Linked DNA regions of Homo sapiens. The protein of the gene in region 5 interacts with the protein of the main gene of each other region in a biochemical or structural test. Each region holds a gene or a part of one and is shown on either strand. Other genes may lie near its edges.

Region 1 (4,237 bases), on a different chromosome or scaffold from region 5:
ATCCTGGCCAACGTGGTGAAACCCTGTCTCTAATAAAAATACAAAAATTAGCTGGGTGTGGTGGCACATACCTGTAGTCCCAACTACTCGGGAGGCTGAGGCAGGAGAATCACTTGAACCTGAGAGGCGGAGGGTGCAGTAGACCAAGATCACGCTATTGCACTCCAGCCTGGCAACAGAGCGAGACTCCGTCTCAAAAAAAAAAAAAAAAAAAAAAAAAATCTGCTTTATACTACATAAAACTTCAAGGGTAAAGGCAATAAAACTGTGTAACTATATAAACACTGAAGAAATAGGTTCATAAAACAAAATGTAACCATGGGGAAGTATGTATGTTAAAGAACTATATGAAGCTAGAAAAATAAATAGGCCAGGCACAGTAGCTCACACCTATAATCCAGCACTTTGGGAGGCTGAGGTAGGTGAATCGCCTGAGCTCAGGAGTTCGAGACTACCCCGGCATGGTGGCATGTGCCTGTAGTGTAGTCCCAGCTACTTGGGAGGCTGAGGTGAGAGGATCGCTTGAGCTTGGGAGGTGAAGGTTGCAGTGAGCTGAGATGGCACCACTGCACTCCACCCTGTGTGACAGAGCGAGAACCCGTCTCCAAAAAAAAAAAAAAAGAAAGAAAAAAAAAAGAAAAGAAAAGAAAAGAAGAAAAGAAACAGGTAACAGTCACCCCTGGAAAGGATAATGAGATGACCGAAGAATAAGAGATAGAAGGAAGAAGTCTTTCACTACATTCCCTTTTGTACTATTCCCACTAATGCCTCCCTAGGTTAAGTAAGCAGTACTTACCAGAATTTTATCAGCTTTGGCTTCACTAATTCCCTTAATATTTATTAGCTCCTTCTTTGGCGCATAGGCAACAGCCTCCACAGTATGGAATCCAGCTTCTTCCAATTTCTTCACATCGTTGGCATTTATGCCACACTGCTGCAAATGAAGAAAACCATGGATAAATTTAAGCTTTAGTTCTCTAATCTAACACAGATGTTATGTGTCCTACATACTTCACAGAGGTGCTTGAAGACTTGTAATACAACTGTCCCTTGAAATCCTTGGGGGGGCGGGGGGAGATGGGAAGTTGGTTCCAGGACCCCCAGCAGATAACAAAATCCAACAATGCTCAAGTCCCTTATATAAAATGGCGTATTACCTGCATATAACCTATGTACATCCTCCTGTATACTTTTTTTTGATATGTAGTTGATTGAATTTTTGATACGTAGTTTGTTGAATTTGCTGATACAGAATCCGGAGATACAGAGAGCCTACTGTTATTATATGCAAAAGCTGAAAAATGAGCCCTATATATGAGGTACTTAATAACAAATTAACAACCTTTTCATTATCAAAATCAATAATTTTAAACTAGCACTAAGCCATGTACATTAAAAAGAACTCCTATTAGCAATTGGAATTAAAAAGTAACTCCCAACCTTTTTTTGTGACCCTAAATGATCTCTGAGACCTTGGGCCCTACAAGACCACTTTAAGACAGTGTTGCTCAACACTTTCCACATCAAGCACACATAAAAAACTGTATTTTTACACTATGGTAGGGTAAATAGATAAGGCTGCTCAGAATATAAAGAGCACTATCTTGGCCTGTCAATACTTTTTGTTGAACAATGACCAGAAAGCTCTGCTCTAACAACTGACATTAACAGTGAGGAAAACTACTTTTTGTCAGGGACTTTTATACCTCTTCTCAAAACAAACCACCCAAAGACACCTCTTTCTTCCTATATTCAAGTCAGCTTTGGTTTCATTAGCCACCAAAACCATGACTTCTGGGAAAACATGAGTTAGTAGGTGAATGTGGGTGCATTCAGGGGTTGGGAGAATTTAGAAGAGGGGAGAGATTAGTTTGCCAACATAAGCCATGTCTGCTATTAATATTTAAGCAATATGCATGTTTGAGTATAAGGATGCTCATGGCACCAGAAGTTATGACTCTGAACTTTCAAATGTTTATCACAAATCCATTTAAGTAACTTCTAGAGTCTTTTTTTTTTATTAGCCTTTTGCACTCCTAACTTCTAGAGTCTTGAAGATTAGTCAGAGATGGGAAATATGAAAAAAAGAGACAGAAGAATCAAGTCTTTCTCTGCTTTCCTCCTACTTAGCCCAAATCAGCTGCACTCACAGGGCAGTCTCTATACAATGGGCAGAAATAGTGTAAGGCCTCAGCTCTGGTGCTTAATGTTCTTGTGCAGAATCCTGAATTGGAGCTTGTCTCTTATACCATAACACCACCACACCCTTCTCTCTGCCAATGACAGCTGACAGCACAAATCTAGGTTAATGGAGAGAAGGTGCTTCCCTGTCTTCCTTGCATAACTGGTCCAGGCCGCTATAATTCCCAGAACAGCACTTTCATACTTAGTGCAAATAGCACAGGATGCTTTGGCCAGGCATGGTGGCTCATGCCTGTAATCCTAGCAGTTTGGGACGCCAAGGCAGGTGGACTGCTTGAGGCCAGGAGTTCAAGATCAACATGGTCAACACAGTTAAGACCCATTTCTTAAAAAACAAACAAAAAAACAGCACAGGCTGGGCGCAGTGGCCCATGCCTGTAATCCCAGCACTTTGGGAGGCCAAAGAGGGTGGATCACCTGAGGTCAGGAGTTCGAGACTAGCCTGACCAACATGGAGAAACCCTGTCTCTACTAAAAATATAAAATTAGCTGGGTGTGGTGGCTCATGCCTGTAATTCCAGCTACTTGGGAGGCTGAGGCAGGAGAATCGCTTGAACCTGGGACGCAGAGGTTGCGGTGAGCCGAGATCACGCCATTGCACTCCAGCCTGGGCAACAAGAGCGAAACTCCATCAAAAACAAACAAACAAACAAACAAAAACAGCACAGAGATTCCACCATGGGATCCTAGGCCTTAGTTTCTGACAGTCCAACTCTCAGAAATAAAAATGATAAAGTAGGAAGAGAATTGTTGACAAAGGAAGAGGCCCTGCCAGACATATTTAGCAATGATCTGCAGCCTTTCCACAGGATTATTGACAACACTTCTGAAAAGTCTAATTTGGGTCTTGACCTTGGTAGTAAACCTATATTTTATGTAAAGGTTGTAATACCTTCCACTAGGTAGAAGAATCTAGTATATAATTCCAAAATTAGCAACTAACCACATACCTCTAACCGTGAAATGGGTTGTGGGCCAAAGCTTTCTTCTTCCACTGAAGTATCTGCATTTGCTTCAAGCTGCATCTGCATTGCCATTACTGAAAAATACAAATGCTTATCAGTATAAACACTAGAGAAATAAGGTGCATCTCTCTCCCCATCTTCTATCTAGCTAGTCGTATCAAAAAGACTTTAGGAAAAGCCAAGGCCATTCTCTTATTGTGCCTCTCTGTTCTCCTGCTTTATATTCCTTCAGTGTAGGGGCCAAGTTTTACTTATTTTTATATACCCCATTATACATTATAAATGTGTTTGCAGACAAATACTGCATGATCTCACTCATATGTAGAATCTAAAAAAGTTGATCTTGGCGGGGCGCGGTGGCTCATGCCTGTGATCCCAGCACTTTGGGAGGCCGAGGCGGGCAGATCACCAGGTCAGGAGATCAAGACCATCCCGGCCAACATGCGAAACCCCGTCCCTACTAAAAATACAAATATTAGCAGGGTGTGGTGGCACACGCCTGTAGTCCCAGCTACTCGGGAGGCTGAGGCAGGTAAATGGCTTCAACCCGGAAGACAGAGATCGCAGTGAGCCGAGATCGTGCCACTGTACTCCAGCCTCATGACAGAGTGAGACTGTGTCTCAAAAAAAAAAACAAAAAAAAAAAAGTTCATCTCATACAAGGAACAAATAGAACAGTGGTAACCAGAGACTGAGGAGAATGCAGCTGTTGCAGGGGGCGGCAGGAAGGAGAGAGGTTGGTCAACAGGCACAAAGTTTCAGTTAGATAGGAGGAATAAGTTCTAGGGTTCTATTTCACAGTAGGGTGACTACAGTAAACACTAATGTAATGTATACTTCAAAATAGCCAGAAGCGAGTATTTTGAATGTTCTCATCACAAAGAGAAATGACAAGTGTTTAAGTGAACTGATGGATATGCTGATTACCCTGATTTGATCATTCATTATACAATGTATATATGTATTGAAATATCATCTTGGGCCAGGTGGAGTGGCTCACGCCTGTAATCCCAGCACTTTGGGAGGCCAAGGCGGGTGGATCACCAGGTCAGGAGATCGAGACCATCCTG
Region 2 (3,997 bases), on a different chromosome or scaffold from region 5:
CCTTCATCCCTGTCTCTCCCGGTTTATTTTAATTCAGCCCCTTTCACATTCTACTCCCAGAGTCTGTCCTATTTCCTTACCAGTTCAGCTCTATCCACACTGCCCCGTCTCTCCAAGAACCTCAGTCTCAGGGGGAAAAACCATTTATTGGACCCTCTCCCTCCAATTCTCACTTTTCCCTCAGGCCTCGCCCACAATATTAAGCTTTTCATGCTTTACTCCCTAATCTCGGATCACACTTCTGCAGTCCTTTCTTAAATACATCAACCCAACTTTAAACCTTACTCACCCTATTCATTCAAGTCTTCCAGTCTCCCAGGCCCTGCCCCTCAAGTACCCTTTCCTCAAGTTCCGCCCCTCGACTTCTCCTTCCCTTTCCCGTAGGTACCGCCCCTCAAATCTCCCTCCCCTCTAGCCTCGGCCCCCCTATTTCCTCTAACTTCAGCGCCCGCCCCTCCAGTCCCGTTCGTCTCCCTTCTCCACACCTCAACGTTGCTTCCCTCAGTCCCCGCCTCTCAATTTCCTCCTGAGAAATCAAGACACTTCTCTCACGCCTGCTCTCTAGACCTCCGCCCCCCCATCAGTCCCGCCTTCTCTTCCGCCAGCCAGATCCGTCCTCCCCTCTCGCAGGCCAGACCTCGACGTGTCTCTCGCCCGGGCCCGTTTCCCGAAACCGTCGCTCGTACCAGTCCATAAGGCTGAAGTAGTCTCGAGTGGGGTCAGGTGCCTGCAGCGCTCGGCACTGTGGGCAGAAGAACCTGTCCTCCCGCCCGGGGCCCCATGGGCCGCCGCAGTTCCAACAGCGGGGATAATTGCTTCCCGCCTGCGACGCAGCATCGCAGCTTAGCGGTCTCCTTCTGGGAACCCCTGTCGGCCAAAACCCCCACACCCGGAGCAAAGCCCCGGCTCTCCCCCGCCACATCTGGCCGGCGGCCTATCTAGCCGTGGTCACTCGTGGGGAAAAGCAAAGAGAGCGTCTAACCAGACTAATGTTGCTGATTGGCTGGGGAGTCGAGGGGGCGGGATCACCCGAGGGGAACCCGGGTTCTAAGTTCCGCTCTCCCTTCTAAACTACAACTCCCAGGAGGCATTGAGGCGGCGCCTGACGGCCACATCTGCTGCTCCTCATTGGTCCGGCGGCAGGGGAGGGGGTTTTGATTGGCTGAGGGTGGAGTTTGTATCTGCAGGTTTAGCGCCACTCTGCTGGCTGAGGCTGCGGAGAGTGTGCGGCTCCAGGTGGGCTCACGCGGTGAGTCATATGGGGAACTTCTGTTGGGTGTTTGGTGGTTCGAATCCCATCTTAAGCGTTTTGTGCGAACGGAGTCTCCTGAGCTTCGCTTTGTCTGTAGTTTTGAGCTGAAGGGGGAGTGTGTGGGCGACTCTCTTCCTTTTCAGTAGATCATCCTCGAGGTGAAGTTCACTTCCCGTATTACTTGCAAGCTGAAACAGGCCTGAACATACAGGATAAGAAGAACAGCGTTGTATTCTTCAATATCAGAGCGAAGTGACTTCGTAAAAATTCTATAGATGTTAGAAATCGTTGCCATTCTTTAGGTTCAATCTATAAAATACTTATAGAGAAGCCAGTCTTAGCTACTGGGCGCTGCAGGGACTGGAAACGCACTGAGCTGTGTAGGAGGATGTTCTGCGTGTCCCTAAATAAGTCCCTAAGTAAATGTATGGGATAGGGTGGCCAGAAGTGGGTAGGAGGGCATCAGTCCTCCTTCGGACTTAGGTTTTCTGCTTGAAAAAAATATTGTGTTTCACTTGAAAGACCTCTGGAATTTTTAAAAAAAATTATTTATTTTTGATATAAAGTATACATATATGATTACCATCTGTACCTTTTTTTTTTTTTTTTTTTTTTTTGAGACGGAGTCTCTCTCTGTTGCCAGGCTGGAGTGCAGTGGCGCGATCTGGGCTCACTGCAACTTCTGCCTCCTGGGTTCAAGCGATTCTCCTGCCTCAGCCTCCTAAGTATCTGGGATTATAGGTACCCGCCACCATGCCCGGCTAGTATTTTTAGTAGAGACGAGGTTTCACCATGTTGGCCAGGCTGATCCCGAACTCCTGACCTCAGGTGATCCACCTGCCTTGGCCTCCCAAAGTGCTGGGATTACAGGTGTGAGCCACCGCGCCCGGCCTATTTTCAATTTTTTGAGGAATCACAATACTCTTCTCTATAGTGGCTATACTAATTTGCATTCCCACCAGTGGTGTATGTGAACAGTGCAAGGTCAGACATAACCAGGTCCATGCACATTTGTGTCTTTCCACAAGATCAGACTTATTGATGTTTTATTTTAATTGTAAAAGCCACGAGCTATATGGAGTTCCCAAGGAAGCAATTTTCCGTAGTACTCCCTGTTTACTTGGTGGTCAGAGCCATGGGCACACAGGCTCAAGCCATTCCACAAGTCAGTCAGTATTGTAAACCGTACACAATAGTATATTTATTTAATATGTAAATGTTATAGATTAAAAATCTTACATTAAAGTAACATTTAACATTCGGAGAAAAGGGGATAGGGAAAGTGGTTATCAAACCAGTCCAAGGAGAGCAATGTGGACAAAGAGAGTGTTTTGGCTTTATCTGGGGTGTCAGTGTCTTGTAAGGAAGAGTTTTTGATGCGGGCAGAGCCTTTGATGGCGGATACTGGGTGTTAATCATGAGTGACAGCAAGATGGTGTCTGTTAGGACAGCCATTTTGACCTAATAAAGTCCTGCTCTTATGACCAAAGAATTTTCTTGTGAGGACTAATAACAAAAGCGTGTACATATTTATATCCTTATCTGGTTTAGTACAGTGTTTTTTTTGAGACAGAGTCTCGCTTTGTCACCAGGCTGGAGTGCAGTGGTGCGATCTCGGCTCACTGCAACCTCCGACTCCCTGGTTCAAGCGATTCGCCTGCCTCAGCCTCCCGAGTAGCTGGGACTACAGGCACGCGCCACCATGCCCAGCTAAGTTTCGTATTTTTAGTAGAGTTGGGGTTTCACCATGTCGACCAGGATGGTCTCCATCTCCTGACCTTGTGATCCGCCCGCCTTGGCCTCCCAAAGTGCTGAGATTACAGGCGTGAGCCACTGTACATGGCCAGTACAGTCTTTATTAATTAGACAAACATCTGGTCCCTGTTGGCATAATGCCTTTTAAAATATAAGATAGAGCCTTTTTCTAAGATAAAATTACTTATGTCAAGAGCACTCTATACAGTTCCCCTTTCTGCACATTCTTTCCAGCATCTGTTTTGCCTATCTTTTATACAAACCATTTTAACTTGGGTGAGATGGTATCTCATTGTGGGTTTTTTTGTTTGTTTGTTTGTTTGAGACAGAGTCTTACTCTGTCGCCCAGGCTGGAATGCAGTGGCGCGATTTTGGCTCACTGCCTCCTCTGCCTCCCGGGTTCAAGAGATTCTCCTGCCTCAGCCTCCCAAGTAGCTGGGATTATAGACGCCTGCCACCATGCCCAGCTAATTTTCATATTTTTAGTGGAGACAGGTTTCACCATGTTGGCCAGGCTGGTCTCAAACTCCTGACCCCAAGTGATCTGCCCGCCTCCGCCTCCCAAAGTGCTGGGATTACAGGCATGAGCCACTGCACCCGGGCCTCACTGTAGTTTTGATTTATATTTCTCCAGTGATCAGTGATGTTGAGCATTTTTTTAATATACCTGTTGGCCATTTGTATGTCTTCTTTCGAGAAATGTCTTTTCGGATCTTTTGCCCATTTCTTTTTTTTGAGACAGAATCTCACTCTGTCACCTAGCCTCGAGTGCAGTGGTGCGATCTCGGCTCACTGCAACCTCCGTCTCCGTCTCCTGAGTTCAAGTGATTCTCGTGTCTCAGCCTACCAAGTAGCTGGGATTACAGGCACGGGCCACCATGCCCAGCTAATTTTTTGTATTTTTAGTAGAGATGTGGTTTTGCCATGTTGACCAGGCTGGTCTTGAACTCCTGACCTCAGATGATTCACCCACCTTGGCCTCCCAAAGTG
Region 3 (4,237 bases), on a different chromosome or scaffold from region 5:
ATGTGCAGATCTCTCTCAAGCATTCAATCAAATATTGATCAGAGAATGCGTTGTAAGAAAACCAGAGAAAGAACCACCCGAAGCCTTGAGGGGGAATATCCTCCCAGTTACAAAGGACCTAGAATAATCTACCAGCCAGAGTGGAAAACCTCCATAAGTAACGGGACACAGTAGAGAAGAATTTTGCCTCAGAAGGGAAGAAAATTAGCCACAGACTATATTTTGCTAGTCTTTATTGTTTCCACAGCTTCTCATATATCTAAAATTTGTTTCCATTTTTTAAAATAGCTGCTTTAGCAGGAGTGTTAGCCTTCTGTGACTTACTGCATTCTACCTAGAAGAGGAACCTCTAGCATAACCTTGATACCAAAGCCCTGTAAGAACATTTTTCAAAAAAAGACAATATTATTCATAAACATAGATGCAAACATCTTCAATATTAGGCAAACCTAATCAAAAAAAGTTAATACTTTATGACCAAGTCAAGTTTATCCCAGAAAACCTAAAGTTGCTTTAACTTTCAAAAACCATTGTAATTTATCAAGTTTCAGAAGGCCTCTCAATTCTGAAAGAAATGGTTTTGTCTGCATTGCTTGGAACCAAAAGGCTACATATGTTTAATATGTTGATTGCCTTTTACAGTTTTCTAGTAAGTGTTACTTCTAGCACTATATGATTTTTCTAATTAGTATTGTGCTTTTGAATAATTTGCCTTAGATTAGCTTCAAATACTTTATTTGAAAGTCTGCTACTTAGTATAGTTAAGTCAACCAATACTTTATTTCTGATCAAACTAACAGCAATTAAAATATATAATCAACAGAAGATTGATTTCCCCGTATAACAATGAAGTGCCTTCATTTATTAGAATATAACCAACCCTGCCAACCTGATTAGCAACTTTGATCACTGCCCATTTTCCTAAAAACCTAATTTGAGTATTATTTTAGGAGAAGTGAAAAATGTTTATTATAATTTGATAATTCTAATTCCCATAATCCCAATTCCAACAGAAAATATCAAATAAAACTTTTCACAAAATACCTCCAAATTTTATAGAAAGTCAATGGGAATATAGAATTCCCTTTCAAGAATAAGACTTACAAACAACTAAAATATACATGAGTATATTGTGTATACCTTCATTCATTAAAATATTAAACCTATACCAGCTCTTCTTTATCACTTACCTCTTTGCTTGGTGACTGAATACAAGTGTCTTTTATTTTGCGTGTTGAATTAGGCACTGATTTTGTAGAATTTGTACTAAAATCATTGGCAAGACCTAAAACAAAAGTATGAAATTTTCAAAAACAAGATATAGTGTAATATCTATTAGTCACAATTAAAAGTAGCTGTATATGACATGTGAAGAACCATCTGTTGACTCACTGACCACAATTAGCTTAAATCAAGTAGAGACCTCAATTTAATATTCAAATGTTCCTGAGAAGCATCAGGAAATGAGAAAAGCAAACAAAACACCTGAAGTATCAATATATGCCAGCTCTTCTTTCAGAGCTTGTATAGAAAACATTCTTTTCTATCATCTGCCCCTATTTCTTTGGCTGGCTTATTCTCTTATTCCAATACCTGCTGATGCTAATCAGCACTTGGAAAAGTTTTTGCTGTAATTTATGACTTCCTTAAACAGATATGTAAATCACCAAAGATTATCTCAAATTCTCCAGCGATTCCAAGAATTCTACACATCTATTTTCATTATATATTTTTTCTGGCTAGATGCAGTGGCTTATGCCTGTAATCCCAACACTTTGGGAGGCTGAAGAGGGCAGATCACTGGAGGGCAGGAGTTCGAGACCAGACTAGCCAACATGGTGAAACCTGGTCTCTACTAAAAAATACAAAAATTAGCCAGGCGTGGTGGCACACACCTGTAATCCCAGCTACTTGGAAGGCTGAGGCACAAGAATCACTTGAACCTGGGAGGCAAAGGTTGCAGTGAGTTGAGATAGCACCACTGTACTACAGCTTGGGTGACACCGCAGGACTATGTCTCAATAAATAAATAAATAATAAAATACTTTTTCTTGTGTATGATAATTATGTATGGACTTCCAGATTACAGTAATTTAATGTGAACTAAACGGGATGACAAATTATTGTCAAATTATTATTTTTTGTCAGTATTATCCTAAGTATACCAGAAGGTACACAAAGGATTGCATATGAACTCAAAATACCAGGGAAAATATTTTCCATATATTTAAACCCTAGAACATATTTGCTGCATTTGATATTAATTACCATGACAAATTCATATTTTCATCCATCTAACCCTTAAATTCCATCTTGAAATGAAGCCTTACTTTTTTCTTCAAAACAGTCTTGTAAGATTTCCAGAACATTCTGGCCTTGCTCTGTGTTAATGTCACGTGCCCTAATAAAGGAAAAATACAGCCTGTCATTTTCAGAAGATATTTCTTTATATTACCATCTCTTTGAAAATTCCACATCTCATTATAAAATATAAATTTACTTAATATGTAAAATATCTTTACTATTTGAAGACAAAACAAGTACTTGAGGGTCTATACATTCCCTCAAGTGAACTCTTTCCTTCCTAATAAGAATTAGTATATCATAATCTACCTTAACAATTAATATTTCTTAGTTGAACAGCCATGTCTAAAGCTGTTTTAGATTACTGCTGTATCTCAAAAACACAAATTTTTTTGAATGAATCCAATCAGTCCTGAAATGCTTCTTTAACAGACTTTACAGTCACATCTCCAAGTAACATATTCCTCCCTATAAATTCTCAAATGCATTTCTAATTCAGTATCATTGATTAATCTTAACAGTTTATGAATCAGTATAAATTTTAATTAAAAATTATATTGAGCTTGTAGATTCACAGCCAGCTATACAACATAATACAGACCCCTTGTTCACTTTACCTAGTTCTCCTCAGTGCTAATATTTTGCAAAACTATAGCATATTATCACAATCAGGATACTGATATTGATACAATCTACCAATGCTATTGTGATTTCTCCAGTTCTACATGTACTCATTTCTGAACATACTCATGTTTGTGTGTATATATACAAAATGTATCACATCTGTAGGTGCAGATAAAACAACCAGAGTCAAGATACTGAATAGTTCCATCATCACAAAGATCCTCTATTGTCCTTTTGTAATCATAACCACCTTTCTCTCATCTCCTTCCTGCCTCCTCTCATTCCTAACCTCTGGCAACCACTAATCTGTCCTCCATTTCTAAAACTCTGTCATGTGGAAACAATTATATGTAAATAGAATCATACAACATGTATCCTCTTGCCTTGGCTTTTTTCACTCAACACAATTCTATGGAAATAAATCCAAGTTGAATGTACCAATATTTCATTGCTTTTTAGAGTCAAGTAATGTTCCATGCTATGTGTGTACCACAGTGTTTAACCATTTACCTGTTGAAGAACATCTGGATTTCAATCAGTATAAAATTGACATGCATCTCTAACAGAGTGGACAAACTTTTGCTTAAAGGGCCAGATGGTAAATATTTTAGGCTTGTAAACCATAGTCTCTGTCACAACCAGTCGACTCTCCCATTCTAGCCCAAAAGCAACCACAGACAGTATGTAAACAAAGAGGCATGGCTGTGTTCCAATAAAATTGAAATAAAACCTGTGACAAAACATTTGGCTGGCCTATCAGCCAGAGTTTACTGATCCCTGATCTACAACATTCCTATTATTGAGAGCTGGAAAAGTACTATATATGCAGTAATTAAAAACTGTGAGCCACAGTGCATTATCAGGTCATCCATCATAAAGTTTTATAACTGAAAGATCTCAGAAATCATCCAGTCCAATAATCATCATCCAAATAGATGTGTAAAGTTACTTTTGGAGCTTTGCAGAAATACACTTAATTGGTCACTTCCCACAAACCAATTTAATTAGATTTCCTAGGGTGATGGAGGTAATTCTGATGTGCAAATCTAGTTAAAAACCCCTAGCTGAATCCTATGCCCTCATTTTGCAGATAGGCAAACTGAAACCCAAAATGGTCAAATGGCCTACCTCAGTTTGTAAACCTAAGTAGTATTAGTGGCCGGTTTTCTACCAGAATATATATAGGTGACTATTATAAATTCTGGCCTTGACATCACCCCAAAATACCACCTACAGGTGCACATATTGCACAGCTATAAATACACTCCTGCTATTACCTGTTTCAAGGATGAGATCCAAAAAGATCAGA
Region 4 (4,237 bases), on a different chromosome or scaffold from region 5:
CCAAATAAGAGTATGACTTGGGGTATCATGTCCTTGATCTTCACCTACATTTGAGTAACTTTGATTAAAAAGTATTTATAAACTTATGAAATACAAAGACACAAAGGAGTTCCCTCCACCAATTCTGAAACCTTGTAACAAGCCTAATTTCTTACCACTCCAAGTGCTATTCTTTCCACCTCTATAGTCTTGATTTTGACCTTTCTCTCCAGTATAGTACAGGGAAATAGATCGCCCATCGATCTCTGTTCCCTGCTTTTCTTCAAAGGTTTTCTCTGCATCAGCTTCTGTCTTAAATTCAATATAAGCAATCCTGCAATGGAGGGAGAAGAACTCATGGTTTTTAAAACCATATTAACACAAATGCTTTTACCTCAGCAACACAGAACTTGCTTCAGATCTGAGTACAATAAATGCCCTTAGTTTTATGCCACTTTTCAATCAAAACTCGAGCTTCCCTCTTACTTCCCACTAGTTTTACAAATACTTGGAATTTTTTCATAGTAACCTCACCTCACTGAAAGAACTGCTACTACTTACAAAGTATTTATTGTAAGATAGGCACATTTCTTGCTTCTTTGTAAGTATTAGCTTGTCTTTTAAAATCACCCTATGAGTACATTATCCCCATGGTACAGATGGGTTACTGAGGCACAAACTTACAGGTTAAACTGTCCAAGATTACACGCCTAAGGAAATCAAACCAATATTTCTTTTATAAAGCAGGAAAGTGCATTAATGTTAATAAAACCCTTACATTTCAATAGACAGAACATACCCTTTACTTTTCCCATCCTTGCTGACTAATCTGATCTCCGCAGCATCTTCAAACACTTCTTTCAATTCATCCTGAGTGACTTTGTAAGGGAGATTTTTAGCCAAAAGTGTTCTCGCATCTCGCTCTAGATTAAAAAAACAAAAATGAGCTCTGTGGCCTGAAAAACCAAAGGTGGGGGGCAACAACAAAAAGAGGGGAAAAACACACATAGCTCTATTCAACAAATAATTTGAGATCCTATAATGTACAAGGCTCGGTGCTAAATATGGAGATATAGCAGTGTCAACACACAAGTGGTCCCTCCATGTTGTCACAGCTGATGTCAAACTCTCTGTTAGGTACACTGGAGTTCAACCTAGAGTAGACGCGCATAACAAAAAAAGTGAATGTACCAATTCAAAACATTACAACTGTATATAGGGAGTAATTAGGGACCTAATCTAGTTTCAGTGAAGAAAGATCCCTTTACGTTAATTTAGGTGCATCTAATAATTCTTGTTCTGTATAAAAGTGCTCTTGCTTGCCTAACTCAGGAATTTACACTATAACACTGACAAGCAGTGCCAAGTACTCTTGTAAACACTGTAGCTCATTTAATTCCCACATTAAGAGGAAACCAAAGGAAAAAAATGATTTAAAAAAATAAGAGGAAACCAAGGGAAATGGGTTACAAAGCATTTTCCCTAGCAGTCTAGCTCCTGAGTTCATTGCATAATCTCATAAAGCCTTACATACCTTTCTTACTGTCTTTTCCTTTTGGTTTCTCTAGTTTAATTTCATTGCCAAAGACTTTCAAACCAGTGAGTTCCAACGCTTTCTCCAGGTCTTCAGCAGATTCAAAATCCACATAACCAAATTTCCTTCAAGGTGGAGAGGAGGGCAAAATTACAACAGGTGAAAACACAAATCAAAATCCACAATATGTATTCTAGACAAATGTGATGGTGCAAACAAAGATCACATTTTAAAAAGCACCCCTAGTATTAGCAAAACAAAGTCAAGGCTCTGCAAACTGCAGCTACAGAACAAGGTCTCAGCATGAAGATATGACATGCACATTCACGTTTGAGGTCTTCATCATGGAGCTAAATTGCTTATAAGAATTCACAGTAGCAGCTGACAAAAGAACACCTATAAGCACTAATACAGGAGAATCCTGTCTGGATAAAAGTATTCACTATGATGACTAGACAGGTCTAATAGTTTCAGGTACTTCCAAGAAAATAAACATTATTTTAAATTGAGACGGTGTCTCAATCTGTTGCCCAGGCTGGAGTACAGTGGCGCGAACTTGGCTCACTGCAACCTCTGCCTCCCAGGTTCAAGCGATTCTCCCACCTAACACCAAATTATTAAAACTTACTGGCAGGGTGGCTCACGCCTGTAATCCCAGCACTTCGAGAGGCCGAGGTGGGTGGATCACTTGAGGTCAGGAGTTCAAAACCAGCCTGACCAACATGGTGAAATGCCATCTCAACTAAAAATACAAAAATTAGCCAGGCATGGTGAAGTGCACCCGTAATCCCAGCTACTTGGGAGGCTTAGGCAGGAGAATCGCTTGAACCCGGGAGGCAGAGGTTGCAGTGAGCCAAGATTGCGCCACTGTACTCCAGCCTGAGCAAAAGCCAGCGTCCGTCTCAATACATAACAAAAACAACAAAAAAACTTACTAAAAATTATTCTGTGCTATACCAAGTTACGACTGATTATGGAAATTGCAACTTAGGGGATCTACAGTTTAATTCTAACTTAGTTCACTAATGCTAATCCTTGAAGATGTTTACAGTATTCATGTTTAACAGTAGCAGGCTAAAGTAACTGTGCTAACAGGGGAAGGAAAAGCATTAACAGACCCACGTGTATGTAACGTGCAGTGAAGCACTTACCTAGTCATACCAATTCTGACATCCACAACAGCAAGATCATTTTTAGCAAAAACATCGCTGATACCAGTTTTTAATTCAGGAGCAGATTTGTTAAAGTTTAGGTTTCCAACAAAGAGATTGAAAGCCGTAGTCGGTTCTGTGCCTGCACAAAAAAAGCTCAACTCAGTCTACTTGTAGTGTGGTAAAAAGTTAGTTTCCAAAGCAAAATTTCTATACACAGCACATCAGCACACTACAATGTAACATCAGGTTTCAGTATTAAGTCCCTTTGTTATTCATCATTTGTGCTGTTTATCTCCCCCATATCCCCTAATTCTGCAAGTTACCTTCCACTTTCTGTTTCTTGGCTTCAGGAGCTGCTTTCTGTTTGGCCATTTCCTTCTTTCGTTTTCCAGGTGCTTCTTTGACAGGCTCTGGACAAGATGTCAAACAATGTATCACACATCAGTAGCCACAAACACTTAAGTGCCTCCTTTAAACATAACTCATGTCGTATGTCAGAATCTAATTTAAGTACCTTCCTCCTCCTCTTCTTCCTCCTCCTCATCATCTTCATCATCATCATCTTCATCATCTTCGTCGTCGTCGTCATCCTCGTCCTCATCATCCTCTTCTTCATCTTCATCCTCAGCCACGTTCTTGGCTTTCACAGGAACAACTTTTGCAGCTTTCTTTCCTTTGGCTGGTGTAGTCTCCATAGCTTCTTCTTCAGAGTCTGAAAGAGAAGTCACCTAAAAATTGCAGCAATCTCCCAAAACCAACATCGGTTTTCAAATCTAATGTAAAGAAAATGCAATCCTGTCACCATGTTTAGTTAACAGTCATGGCAAGAATAGATCACTTGGGGCCGGGCGCAGTGGCTCACGCCTGTAATCCTAGCACTTTGGGAGACCAAGGTGGGTGGATCACCTGAGGTCAAAAGTTCGAGACCAGCCTGGCCAACATGGTGAAATGTCGTCTCTACTAAAAATACAAAAATTAGTAGGGTGTGGTGGTGGGCACCTGTAATCCCAGCTACTCGGGAGGCTGAGGCAGAACTGCTTGAACCCAGGAGATGGAGGCTGCAGTGAGCCGAGATAGCGCGCCATTGCACTCCAGCCTGGGAAACAGCAAAAGCTCCATCTCAAAAAAATTTAAAAAAAAAAAAAATCACTTAGAAACAAAATCCTACATTATAAAAAACACTAATAGAATGTGCTATTGAAATTTTCTCAAGAGGCACAAAAATCATTCATGGGTAATTAAGTCTAGCACACCACAACAACCCAGAGAATTCCCACAAGGATTCTAATCTCATCTCCAGGTTGTCGTGGAAGGAATATGTTGATCCCAGAATCTCAAGATACCTTGTAATCAGAAGCCCAGTAACTACCAAGACAACTCCTTACCATCTTCCTCATCGTCATCGTCATCCTCATCATCTTCGTCATCCTCATCGTCCTCATCCTCTGAGGCAGGGGCAGCAGCTGCTGCTTTCATCGCTGCTGGTTCAATTTCATCTTCATCCTCATCCTCGTCCTCGTCATCCTCCTCATCCTCCTCACTGTCATCATCCTCCTCTTCATCACTGTCT
Region 5 (4,229 bases):
GATGCGATCAGTGACCAGGTGGGAAGCCTCTGCCGCTGAACCAGCCAGACTTCCCCCCAGTGCCAGCACAGCCCGCTCTCCCCGAGCATCCACCACTCCTGTGAAGAGCACCTGTGGAAGGGTTGACCTGAGGTGGTTACGGCAACCCATGCCATCAGCACCCATCTCTACAATCCTCTAGGTCTCCTTGCATCCTCCCCTCATCTCTGTCTCCCACAAAGTCCCATGCCTTTGTCTCTTACTTTGGGGGCTGTTGATTCTTGGTTAAGTTTGGTCCGTCGGAGGCTGCGGCTTGGTATTCTGTTGGGCTCCTCCTCTGCCTGGTCTCTCTTTCTCTTGCCTGGTTTTGGAGTCACGACATCCTGAGATTGAGAAAAATCTTGGTGGGAGTTTCAGAGCCCTGAAGTCATTTTTCCCAGCTTTGTGGTCCCAACCCTCTCCTCACCTCTTCCTTCCCTGGCTTCTCTGCAGTATCTTCTTCCTCTTCCTTGATAATCACTGTCTTCTGGGAGACTTCCCCTCTTTGGGGCTGTTTTTGATGTGGTGGTGAATCCATGGTAGCTAAAGACCTCTTGCGGCTTTGAGAGGCCTTAGGCTGGAGCTCCGGGGTGAACCTAGATCTACCTGCTGGTTCCACCTTTTGGATCTGGGAGGCATGAATTGGTGTCTCAAGAAGCTGGGGAGAGGCAGGCTCAGGAATGGCTGTAAGGGATTCAGCTGCTCTCACTGCTCCCCATCTTTGGTTCCTTGAGGCCTGGGATTTAGGTTCCAAGGGTGCAGAGCAAGGCTTATGGTCAATGGGAGCTGCGAGGGAGCCAGGGTTCCCAGCGGCTCTCTGCCTCTTGATGCAACTGGGTTGAGTAATAGGCTCAGGGGAAATAGGCTGGTCTGTGGTGACAGGAGATTGGAATTCAGGGGTGGTAGGAACCGGCATAGCTCTTACTGTGGAAGACCTCAGTGTTTTGCTCTGACCACCCTGAGCTATGGCCTCAGGGGTGACGGACTGGTCTGTGGGGGTAAAAGGCTCAAGATCAGAGGCTGCTGGTTCAACTGGTTTGGGAGTCTTGACAGAGGACCTATTTGTCTTTCTCCTAGTGGCCCTAGATGTGAGCTTGGGGGTGACAGGCTGGTCTGTGGAGGTGGTAGGATGGGGCTCAGGGGCTGTGGGGACAACTGGCTCAGGGGTCTTGACAGAGGACCTATTTGTCCTGCACCTAGTGGCCCGAGATGTGGGCTCAGGGGTGACAAGCTGGTTTCTGGAGGTGGAAGGCTGAAGCTCAGGGGCTATAGGGACAATTGATTCAGGGGTCTTGACAGAGGACCTATTTGTCCTGCCCCTAGTGGCCCGAGATGTGGGCTCAGGGGTGACAGGTTGGTCTGTGGAGGTGGAAGGCTGGAGCTCAGGGGCTGCGGGCACAACTGTTTCAGGGGTCTTGACAGAGGACCGATTTTTTCTTCCCCTAGTGGTCCGAGATGTGGGCTCAGAGGTGACAGGCTGGTCTGTGGAGGCGGAAGCCTGTAGCTCAGGGGCTGTGGGGACAACTGTTTCAGGAGTCTTGACAGAGGATCTATCTGTTCTTCCCCTAGTAGCCTGAGACGTAGGCTCAGGGGTAACAGGCTGGTCTGTGGAGGTGGAAGGCTGGAGCTCAGGGGCTGTGGGGACAACTGTTTCAGGGGTCTTCACAGAGGACCTATTTGTCCTGCCCCTGGTGGCCTGAGATGTGGGCTCAGGAGTGACAGGTTGGTCTGTGGAAGTGGAAGGCTCGAGCTTAGGGGCTGTGGGGACAAGTGTTTCAGGGGTCTTGCCAGAGGATCTATTTTTTCTTCCCCTAGTAGCCCGAGATGTGGGCTCAGGGGTGACAGGCTGCTCTGTGGAGGTGGAAGGTGGGAGCTCAGGGGCTATAGGGACAGTTGATTCAGGGTTCTTCACAGAGGACATATTTGTCCTGCTCCTAGTGGTCCGAGATGTGGGCTTAGGGGTGACAGGTTGGTCTGTGGAGGTGGAAATCTGGAGCTCAGGGGCTGTGGGGACAACTGTTTCAGGGGTCTTGACAGAGGACATATTTGTCCTGCTCCTAGTGGTCCGAGATGTGGGCTTGGGGGTGACAGGTCGGTCTGTGGAGGTGGAAGGCCGGAGCTCAGGGGCTGTGGGCACAACTGGTTCAGGGGTCTTGACAGAGGATCTATTTTTTCTTCCCCTAGTAGCCTGATATGTGGGCTCAGAAGTGACAGGCTGGTCTGTGGAGGTGGAAGGCTGGAGCTCAGGGGCTGTGGGGACAACTGGTTCAGGGGTCTTGACAGAGGATCTATTTTTTCTTCCCCTAGTAGCCTGAGAGGTGGGTTCAGAGGTGACAGGTCGGTCGGTGGAGGTGGAAGGCTGGAGCTCAAGGGCTGTGGGCACAACTGTTTCAGGGGTCTTGACAGAGGATCTACTTTTTCTTCCCCTAGTAACCTGAGATGTGGGCTCAGAGGTGACAGGCTGGTCTGTGGAGGTGGAAGGCTGGAGCTCAGGGGCTGTGGGGACAACTGGTTCAGGGGTCTTGACAGAGGACCTATTTGTCCTGCTCCTAGTGGCCTGAGATGTGGGCTTGGGAGTGACTGGCTGGGCTGTGGAGGTGGAAGGGTGGGGCTCAGGGGCAGCAGAGGTAGCTGGAAAGGGTGTCATTCTGGAGGACTTCCGAGTTCTAATTTTAGGCTTTGGGTGGAAAGGCTCCAGCTCTGAGGACAAGGGAGCCTCTGGAGCTTCCTGACTCCCATCTTGCCTGGTCTTACGAACGGTTGGCTTGATAGAAGGTAAAAGGGGAGAAAGAAGGGGCGGAGGTGCAAGATGTTTCTGGCTCTGAGAGTTAAGGGGCTTTTGGGGTGGGGCTGGGGCTTCAGGTACTGTAGGAGGCAGACAAGCATCTGGAGATTCCTGATCGCCCTAGGGAGAAACAGAAGCAAGTGAGGGGGAGGAGGTGGAGAAAAGAGATAGAACTTGGATACTGTTCTTGATACTTGTTTATGGTTAGATAGGCTTACCAGATTTCCACCGGGCGTGGTGGCTCACGGCTATAATCCCAGCACTTTGGGAGGCCGAGGCGGGCGGATCACGAGGTCAGGAGTTCAAGACCAGCCTGGCCAACATAGTGAAACCCCGTCTCTACTAAAAATACAAAAAAAAAGGCCAGGCATGGTGGCTGATGCCTGTAATCCCAGCACTTTGGGAGGCCGAGGCGGGTGGATCACAAGGTCAGGAAACCGAGACCATCCTGGCTAACACGGTGAAACCCCGTCTCTACTAAAAAATACAAAAAATTAGCCGGGCGTGGTGGCGGGCGCCTGTAGTCCCAGCTACTTGGAAGGCTGAGGCAGGAGAATGGCGTGAACTCGGGAGGCGGAGCTTGCAGTGAGCCGAGATGGTGCCACTGCACTCCAGCCTGGGGGACAGAGCAAGACTCTGTCTAAAAAAAAAAAAAAAAAAAAAAAAAATTAGCTAGGTGTGTTGGCAGGCGCCTAGTAGTCCCAGCTACCTGGGAGGCTGAGGGAGGAGAGTCGCTTGAACCCGGGAGGCAGAGGTTGCAGTGAGCCAAGATCGCGCCACTGCACTCCAGCCTGGGTGACAGAGTGAGACTGTCTCAAAAAAAACAAAAAAATACACAAAAATTAGCCGGGTGACATGCGCCTGTAGTCCCAGCTACTTGGGAGGCTGCGGCAGGAAAATTGTTTGAACCCAAGAGACGGAGGTTACAGTAAGCTGAGATCACGCCACTGCACACTCCAGCCTGGGTGACAGAGACAGACTCTGTCTCAAAAAAGAACAAAAACAAAAAATATGCTCACTGGATTTTCCTTTCTGTCTATGATCTCTCCTCCATTAGACTGGGATCTACCTGGGAAGCTACCTTTTTCCCACAGACCTGTCTCCATAATGCTACTATAGTGTTCTCCACACGTGGATGATGGTAAGGAAAAGGATGGCTGGGGCAAAGAAAGAAGAAACACGAAGGGTCTTTCTTTTGAGTCAGGTAGGAGATACAACTTAGGAAACAGATATGGAAAACAACGGGTGCCGAGGATAAAGGAATAGAAGCCAATCAAGGCGTGACAAAAATGGAAGAAAACTGAATAATGAGAAAGGAATAGATTAAAGTGAGGCTAGGTGAAAGAGCATTGGAGAAGATATAGAGATGACTTGTGGAATAGGAGGTAGAAAAAGTAGCTCTCACCCTGGAAACCTTCTCAGCAGC
Region 6 (3,363 bases), on a different chromosome or scaffold from region 5:
TATTCTTAAGCAGTGTTGCATTTTAAAATATGCTCAATATGGTTTATCTTATCCTCTAGGCATCTTTCCAAGCAAAGTACCTCTAAGTTAAAAGCAATGGGTCTAATAGTTAACCTAGAAAAAAAAGTATGATAAATATACTATTTTCCCTTTTTGGACCAATACTTGGTAGTGTGTTTATTATACTTTATTCAGATGCTCTGTAGACAAGTAGGACACTCAAAGCAATTTGTTTCTTGGCTAAGTCAGTATTAAAATAAGGTGAAATCTGATTGGAACACTGTGCTACTTACAATGATCCTTTTTATACATCTTTACTTTTGCATCTTACCTTCTGCGTGTTTGCTCTTCTTGCCTATTGAAAGGGGAGTCCAGAAAGTAAAACTTTCAATAATTCAGTGTTCGTGAAGCTGGTCCCCGGCCAGCTTTGCTGAAAGCAGGGGGTGTACGCATAGCACACATTCGTCCTTCAGCATCATTTCTTCTGAAACCAAAGGTGTCTTTTTTTTTTTATTTGTATGACTAATAAGACTTATGTAAGTTTATGCTTATTTTTGCCTTTATGACTACATAATAATTTATAGAATCAACTAAAATCAGCTATCCATGGTATTTTGCTTGTATTTTGCCTTTTAGGTTATTATTCTTGGCGAAATTCAAAGGATGGCTCCTGGTTCATCCAGTCGCTTTGTGCCATGCTGAAACAGTATGCCGACAAGCTTGAATTTATGCACATTCTTACCCGGGTTAACCGAAAGGTGGCAACAGAATTTGAGTCCTTTTCCTTTGACGCTACTTTTCATGCAAAGAAACAGATTCCATGTATTGTTTCCATGCTCACAAAAGAACTCTATTTTTATCACTAAAGAAATGGTTGGTTGGTGGTTTTTTTTAGTTTGTATGCCAAGTGAGAAGATGGTATATTTGGTACTGTATTTCCCTCTCATTTTGACCTACTCTCATGCTGCAGAGGGTACTTTAAGACATACTCCTTCCATCAAATAGAACCACTATGAAGCTACCTCAAACTTCCAGTCAGGTAGTTGCAATTGAATTAAATTAGGAATAAATAAAAATGGATACTGGTGCAGTCATTATGAGAGGCAATGATTGTTAATTTACAGCTTTCATGATTAGCAAGTTACAGTGATGCTGTGCTATGAATTTTCAAGTAATTGTGAAAAAGTTAAACATTGAAGTAATGAATTTTTATGATATTCCCCCCACTTAAGACTGTGTATTCTAGTTTTGTCAAACTGTAGAAATGATGATGTGGAAGAACTTAGGCATCTGTGGGCATGGTCAAAGGCTCAAACCTTTATTTTAGAATTGATATACACGGATGACTTAACTGCATTTTTAGACCATTTATCTGGGATTATGGTTTTGTGATGTTTGTCCTGAACACTTTTGTTGTAAAAAAATAATAATAATGTTTAATATTGAGAAAGAAACTAATATTTTATGTGAGAGAAAGTGTGAGCAAACTAACTTGACTTTTAAGGCTAAAACTTAACATTCATAGAGGGGTGGAGTTTTAACTGTAAGGTGCTACAATGCCCCTGGATCTACCAGCATAAATATCTTCTGATTTGTCCCTATGCATATCAGTTGAGCTTCATATACCAGCAATATATCTGAAGAGCTATTATATAAAAACCCCAAACTGTTGATTATTAGCCAGGTAATGTGAATAAATTCTATAGGAACATATGAAAATACAACTTAAATAATAAACAGTGGAATATAAGGAAAGCAATAAATGAATGGGCTGAGCTGCCTGTAACTTGAGAGTAGATGGTTTGAGCCTGAGCAGAGACATGACTCAGCCTGTTCCATGAAGGCAGAGCCATGGACCACGCAGGAAGGGCCTACAGCCCATTTCTCCATACGCACTGGTATGTGTGGATGATGCTGCCAGGGCGCCATCGCCAAGTAAGAAAGTGAAGCAAATCAGAAACTTGTGAAGTGGAAATGTTCTAAAGGTGGTGAGGCAATAAAAATCATAGTACTCTTTGTAGCAAAATTCTTAAGTATGTTATTTTCTGTTGAAGTTTACAATCAAAGGAAAATAGTAATGTTTTATACTGTTTACTGAAAGAAAAAGACCTATGAGCACATAGGACTCTAGACGGCATCCAGCCGGAGGCCAGAGCTGAGCCCTCAGCCCGGGAGGCAGGCTCCAGGCCTCAGCAGGTGCGGAGCCGTCACTGCACCAAGTCTCACTGGCTGTCAGTATGACATTTCACGGGAGATTTCTTGTTGCTCAAAAAATGAGCTCGCATTTGTCAATGACAGTTTCTTTTTTCTTACTAGACCTGTAACTTTTGTAAATACACATAGCATGTAATGGTATCTTAAAGTGTGTTTCTATGTGACAATTTTGTACAAATTTGTTATTTTCCATTTTTATTTCAAAATATACATTCAAACTTAAAATTACCAATGTCTTTGAGTTTTTTGTTGCTGTTGTTTTTGATGTTGTGCCACTAATTGGAAGTTAAAATGTTTTTAATCAGAAGCTTGATTTGGAAGAGTCAAAGAGGAAGCACCAGAACCCTAGCCTAGTTTTTTGAGGTGGTGGCAGTTAGATCAGGGCAGACAGATCGCTTATGCTTCCCAAGTCCTCGCAGAAGTTCCTGACCCTGAAATGACCACAATGCCAGGAAGATACTTTGTTTGCATAGATCTCAGGCCTTAAATATGACCATATGTGTGAATTTGAAACTTTTTCCACAAGATAAGTGTCTAATGGGAAGAACAACCTAAGAGGATATACAACAAGCCGTTGATGTTTACTGATGGCCTCCTCTGGGCGCTGGGATTTTGACAGAGGAATTTGCTGTCTTTTTACTTCATATGCTTAGAAAAGGAATATAGGAAAGTGGGGTTGTGGGTGGTTTTAAATTTCTTCCAATATTTCTGTAATGAAAATATATTACTTTTAAATCAGAAACAAAATAAATTGTCCTAACTAGGAAAAGGAGACTTCTGTTTCTGAGGAGTAGAGAGTAGCATAAATGAGTTCTTTAAGGCCATATGAAAGCGGTGGTTCTATAGTGTTGAGGAAAATCTGGCTTATTCTAGTCTCCCTGTTAAGTAAAGAGGTTTCAGATACAAAGGAAAAGACCAGCAACCCAATAGGAAAATGAGCCAAGGACATGAACAAACAGTTCACAGAAAAAAGAAAACCCAAATGTCCCTTAAATTCAATAAACAGCTTGATCTGCATCATAATAAGAGAAATGCACATTAAAGTATCTGTCGTCTATCAGACCGGCAAAAACCCCAGTTTGGTGACATATTCTGTTGGCAAGATGTGGGAAATGTATACTCTCCCGTTGGTGGGAGTATGATACGGTA
Region 7 (4,237 bases), on a different chromosome or scaffold from region 5:
CTCTGAAATAGCAACTCCAGAGACTCTAGAATTTGGTACGGACCAGTAGGAAAATTATGGAAATTATAGAATGCTATCATTCCACTTTTCATCACGTTGGAAACTCTAATCTAATCCCAGGTTGCAACTAAAATGCTGAAATAACCAAAATGGAAAGGATAGTCTTTCATAATGTTGTATAAAGTTTCTTTGCATCTAAAATCCTTAGTGTGTCCAAGATCACACTGTTGGTCACATCAGACAAGCAATGAAGGCAAGTCAGAAGGTGATACACCAAAAAAAGGCAGAGATGAGACTCTGGCCCCAGAAAAACAAGGAAACGGAGGCAGATAAAGAGCTCAGAGATGGGAAAATCACAGACAAATTTGGGGCACTTGACATGACTCCAAAGAGTTATCATGTGAGATGGTAAAAAGAGATTAGCTATTTTTACTAAAAATAAACACCATACCTTTTGGGGAAAGGGCTGCTGAGAAACAGAGAATTTACCTACCTTTGACAAAGTACAATATTATGCTGCTGTGGGCATCTAGCATTACACCAGCAAATGTCCCAAACCCAAGTGAATTCTTGACAGCACTTAAAGGCATAACTCAGCCCTTTTTACTCCTTAAAAATCTAAGTGGGGAACTAATCTTCTCGAAGGTTCCTGAGTCATAGTTTTGTTAAAATATTTACTTGCTTTTTTCAGATATGCTTAATATCAACTGTTCAGACTTTAAAAACCAACTTGTCACAGATTTTCTAGTGGACTCACTTTTCTAGTAAAAGTCTCACACTCTCAGTCAGTCTCACACACATTCACACAATCGTATTATGAATTTTAATGTGACAAATTAAAAATATCTTTCATTGCAGAGGCTCTATTATGGACAGAGCATAATATCTACATGGATACATCAGAAATTATTGTATGTCATGAAAAAAATTATGTCACAAATAAAGCCCCACCCAACTGCTGATTTTCTATATGAAACACAAGTGGGCTTTTCATTTGTTGTGGGTAAGGCCACACCACTGGCCACATTATTTGGTTTCTCCAGAGGCCACTATCACTGACCCCCAAAGCAAAATAGAGGGCTGGGGGCACATCCCCATTTTTGATGTGCTGATGGCAGATCCTCCACCAGCAATATGAATACTTTTTTTGTTTTTAAATATCATCATCTTTTTGAACATTTATAAAAACTATCTACAATATAATAGTGTATCATCACTAATAGAAATTTCTTCTCAGTTCTATTTCAGAAGGTGTCAACTGATCGTGCTCTTTAAATAAACGATAAATACCCCATATATTCCTTCATGTCTAGTTGTTTCAACTTCTTCTTCTTCTTTTTTTTTTTGGCAAATTAAAAAGGCGTATGGCTTCTTTTCGCCAATTTTTATATTTGAGGTTTAGCTTGGTATCCTGCGGTAAAAGTACATGTAGCCCAGGTCTTTAGGGGGCCTTTCTGAGGCACAAACTTTGTGGTCATTGTAAATCACCCATCTGAAAATAAGACAGAAGCATTTGATGGATTTAAGTCAGTTCCAGGAAACTTTACACAAAGAAGTCACTAAATCATATGGCGCACAACACTTAACCATGATGTTTTAAGGTACTATACTCAAGTTCGTTGTATAAAAAGGGACAGAATGCTGGTAGGGAATCACAACTGCTTTTTTTTTTTTTTTTTAAGAGACAAGGCCTCATTCTATTCCCCAGGCTGGAGTAAGGTAGCACAATCTGAAGCTTCGAACTCCTGGGCTCAAGGGATCCTCTCGCTTCAGCCTCTGGAGTAGCTGGGAACACAGGCACATGCCATCATACCCAGCTACAACTGCTTTTTGATTCTTAAGCTCCATCAAAAAGTAGTTACTAAAATGTATCAGGAACCTCCAAACATTTTAACCTTTGATCCCATAACTCCCTTTATAGAAATCCATAGATAGCCTGAGAAATTGAGTCAAAGAATTATGTACAACAATGCTTATTTCAGTCTTAGTATAAAACTAGCTTAAAACCAGAATTTTAAAAAAATCCATGCAGTGAACTATTATAGAACTATTAAAATTTCTTCAAAGAATATTTGGCAAAGTGAGAAAATAACCATGATATAATATGAAATGGGAAATTACTGGTTAAAAAATTGTATGCACTCTGCACATACTTTAAGCTTTTAGTTAAGTTGTAAATACGTGTGTTTATTTATATGTAGTATGTGTGCATATAGACATATATATACTTTCTTCCAGTGAGACAATAAAACAAAGAAAAGTATATCAAAATGTAGACAATGGTTATTGTTAGGCTTCCAGGGTACATATTCTTTGTATATTTTTATATTTATAAATTATTTACTATGAATTTTATTGCTTTTAAAATTATAATTAAGCTATTTTTCTTTTAAAAAGCATTTTTATTTTATTTTCTTTGACTTCATTCCATAAAGTGTTTTTTAAAGCGCTATCGTGTTTGTAATAAAAACAATTCACCACAAAGATTAAGTCCCAGCCGGGTGCGGTGACTCACACCTGTAATCTCAGCACTTTGGGAGGCCAAGGCGGGTGGATCACTTGAGGTCAGGAGTTTGGGACCAGCCTGACCAACATAGTGAAACCCCATCTCTACTAAAAATACAAAACTAGCCAGTCATGATAGCACATGCCTGTAATCCCAGCTACTTGGGAGACTGAGGCAGGAGAATTGCTTGAATTTGGGAGGCGGAGGTTGTAATGAGCTGAGATTGTGCCATTGCACTCCAGCCTGGGCAATAAGAGTGAAACTCCATCTCAAAAAAAAGAGATAAATTCCTGTGCTCAACTATTTTACCAAGTTAAGAAGACAAAACTAAAAAGACACACCACAGAAGAACACAATGGAGTCCAGGTGGGAAATGGCCACTCCTGCAGTGGGAGCCATGGAGCAAGAGGCCACCCTCAGGCATTTCTCCAGCATCCACATGGCCTGAGCACTGCCCTCAAGCAGAAGTGCCAACCCACAGGCTACTCAGTTTGGAGTTGCAGGAAGGGCACCAGTAGGTCCTGTAGGGATCCAGCCCAGGGAGAAGGTTCTGAAGAAAGCAGCAGCCTTTCATTCCACAACTGTCTCATTTCCGGTTCACTACACACTTAACAATTCTACTTAAGAAGGCTGAGAAGCCAACTGCAAGGCTGTAGTAAGGCAAAGCACTGAAGGTTTAGAGCTGCCAGATAAAACACAGGTTACCCAGTTACATCTGAGTATCAGGTAAGCAATAAGAAATTTCAGTAGAAGCATGCCCCATATAATATTTGGGACATAGAATATTTGAAATTTATTTATACTAAAAAATTATTCATTATTTATCTGAAATTCAAATTTAATAGGGCATCCTGGTTTTTCCTGTCTTGTTTCCTTTTGTTGGCTAAATATGGCAATCCTAGGGAGGTTCCAATTACAGCATACATTCTGCTGCAGGATGCATCTTTATTTTGGGAGGTCACCTTGGTATGATAGTTGAAAGTGGCTTTGAATATCAGCTCTCACACAGCTACTTACTAGCTAAGGTCAAGCTATTCAGCCTCCCTGAGTCTCGGTGTCTTGATGTGCAAAAGGGCGTTAACAGTATACCCTTTACAAGACCAATGTGAGAACCAAATAAGATAACATACAATGTACCTAGGAGAGTGCCTGGCATATAGTAGGTACTCAATAAATCACAGCTAACATTTACCTTCTAAAAATGACTCACCTTCCTTCCTTTTTGATATGGCAAATGTAATGACCACTCATTGTGGATGTTCCCATGTGACTGATGAATGCAAATAGCTCATATGCTGTGAAAGAGGAAACAACTCAGTTACAAGGCAGCATTTCCAGAATGAAGAGCACTTCTGGTTAGAATTTAAAACCAACCATAGTATAATCCAGCAACTGTTTAGATTTGAAAGACAAGGTCTATTTACCTTGCTATGTTGACAACACACACATACTCAGAGGGACACTAAACTCAACCTGCAAATTTGTGATCAAAAAATAGGACATAAATTATCAAAGCACAGCTGATGTTAAATTCAAATGTGGAAAGGGATTTAAAAAATCCCACAGCCCGGTCTGGTGGCAAGCTTATGGATCTAAAAGGGTAGTCCTGGCTCTATCACTTCCAAATAGCACGAGGGTGGACAAGTTGTTTCCTCTTTCTGAGCCTGTTTCTTTGTGGGGATTAAAAAAAAAAATCCACCCACTTCGCAGGGTTGTATAAAACTTAAATGA

The links.
Region 1: the proteins of MDC1 (region 5) and RAD51 form a complex in vitro, tested with the Homo sapiens proteins (one study listed by BioGRID and IntAct).
Region 2: the proteins of MDC1 (region 5) and CHEK2 form a complex in vitro, tested with the Homo sapiens proteins (one study listed by BioGRID).
Region 3: the proteins of MDC1 (region 5) and CENPC interact in a test that uses a peptide from one of them, tested with the Homo sapiens proteins (one study listed by BioGRID).
Region 4: the proteins of MDC1 (region 5) and NCL form a complex in vitro, tested with the Homo sapiens proteins (one study listed by BioGRID).
Region 6: of the proteins of MDC1 (region 5) and CASP3, one has a biochemical effect on the other in vitro, tested with the Homo sapiens proteins (one study listed by BioGRID).
Region 7: the proteins of MDC1 (region 5) and USP13 form a complex in vitro, tested with the Homo sapiens proteins (one study listed by BioGRID).

The regions. Positions count from the first base shown.
Region 1 is NC_000015.10:40,697,761-40,701,997, reverse strand, and holds part of RAD51 (DNA repair protein RAD51 homolog 1), read right to left. Parts: intron 3,242-4,237; coding exon of another isoform or gene 3,240-3,241; coding exon 3,153-3,239; intron 935-3,152; coding exon 797-934; intron 193-796; coding exon of another isoform or gene 72-192; intron 1-71.
Region 2 is NC_000022.11:28,739,021-28,743,017, reverse strand, and holds the start of CHEK2 (serine/threonine-protein kinase Chk2), read left to right. Parts: upstream 1-1,197; 5' UTR 1,198-1,249; intron 1,250-3,997. Other genes in the region: iron-sulfur cluster co-chaperone protein HscB isoform 1 precursor, read right to left, coding at 687-922. UniProt on the Homo sapiens protein: Serine/threonine-protein kinase which is required for checkpoint-mediated cell cycle arrest, activation of DNA repair and apoptosis in response to the presence of DNA double-strand breaks.
Region 3 is NC_000004.12:67,538,650-67,542,886, forward strand, and holds part of CENPC (centromere protein C), read right to left. Parts: intron 2,402-4,237; coding exon 2,331-2,401; intron 1,286-2,330; coding exon 1,191-1,285; intron 1-1,190. UniProt on the Homo sapiens protein: Component of the CENPA-NAC (nucleosome-associated) complex, a complex that plays a central role in assembly of kinetochore proteins, mitotic progression and chromosome segregation.
Region 4 is NC_000002.12:231,457,488-231,461,724, forward strand, and holds part of NCL (nucleolin), read right to left. Parts: coding exon 4,053-4,237; intron 3,380-4,052; coding exon 3,182-3,379; intron 3,078-3,181; coding exon 2,991-3,077; intron 2,956-2,990; exon of another isoform or gene 2,881-2,955; intron 2,807-2,880; coding exon 2,665-2,806; intron 1,639-2,664; coding exon 1,514-1,638; intron 903-1,513; coding exon 779-902; intron 314-778; coding exon 156-313; intron 1-155. UniProt on the Homo sapiens protein: Nucleolin is the major nucleolar protein of growing eukaryotic cells. It is found associated with intranucleolar chromatin and pre-ribosomal particles. It induces chromatin decondensation by binding to histone H1.
Region 5 is NC_000006.12:30,703,176-30,707,404, forward strand, and holds part of MDC1 (mediator of DNA damage checkpoint protein 1), read right to left. Parts: coding exon 4,209-4,229; intron 2,924-4,208; coding exon 446-2,923; intron 363-445; coding exon 243-362; intron 112-242; coding exon 1-111. UniProt on the Homo sapiens protein: Histone reader protein required for checkpoint-mediated cell cycle arrest in response to DNA damage within both the S phase and G2/M phases of the cell cycle.
Region 6 is NC_000004.12:184,626,775-184,630,137, reverse strand, and holds the end of CASP3 (caspase-3 isoform a preproprotein), read left to right. Parts: intron 1-636; coding exon 637-866; 3' UTR 867-2,442; downstream 2,443-3,363. UniProt on the Homo sapiens protein: Thiol protease that acts as a major effector caspase involved in the execution phase of apoptosis. Following cleavage and activation by initiator caspases (CASP8, CASP9 and/or CASP10), mediates execution of apoptosis by catalyzing cleavage of many proteins.
Region 7 is NC_000003.12:179,781,303-179,785,539, reverse strand, and holds part of USP13 (ubiquitin carboxyl-terminal hydrolase 13), read right to left. Parts: intron 3,802-4,237; coding exon 3,717-3,801; intron 1,493-3,716; coding exon 1,399-1,492; 3' UTR 1-1,398. UniProt on the Homo sapiens protein: Deubiquitinase that mediates deubiquitination of target proteins such as BECN1, MITF, SKP2 and USP10 and is involved in various processes such as autophagy, endoplasmic reticulum-associated degradation (ERAD), cell cycle progression or DNA damage response.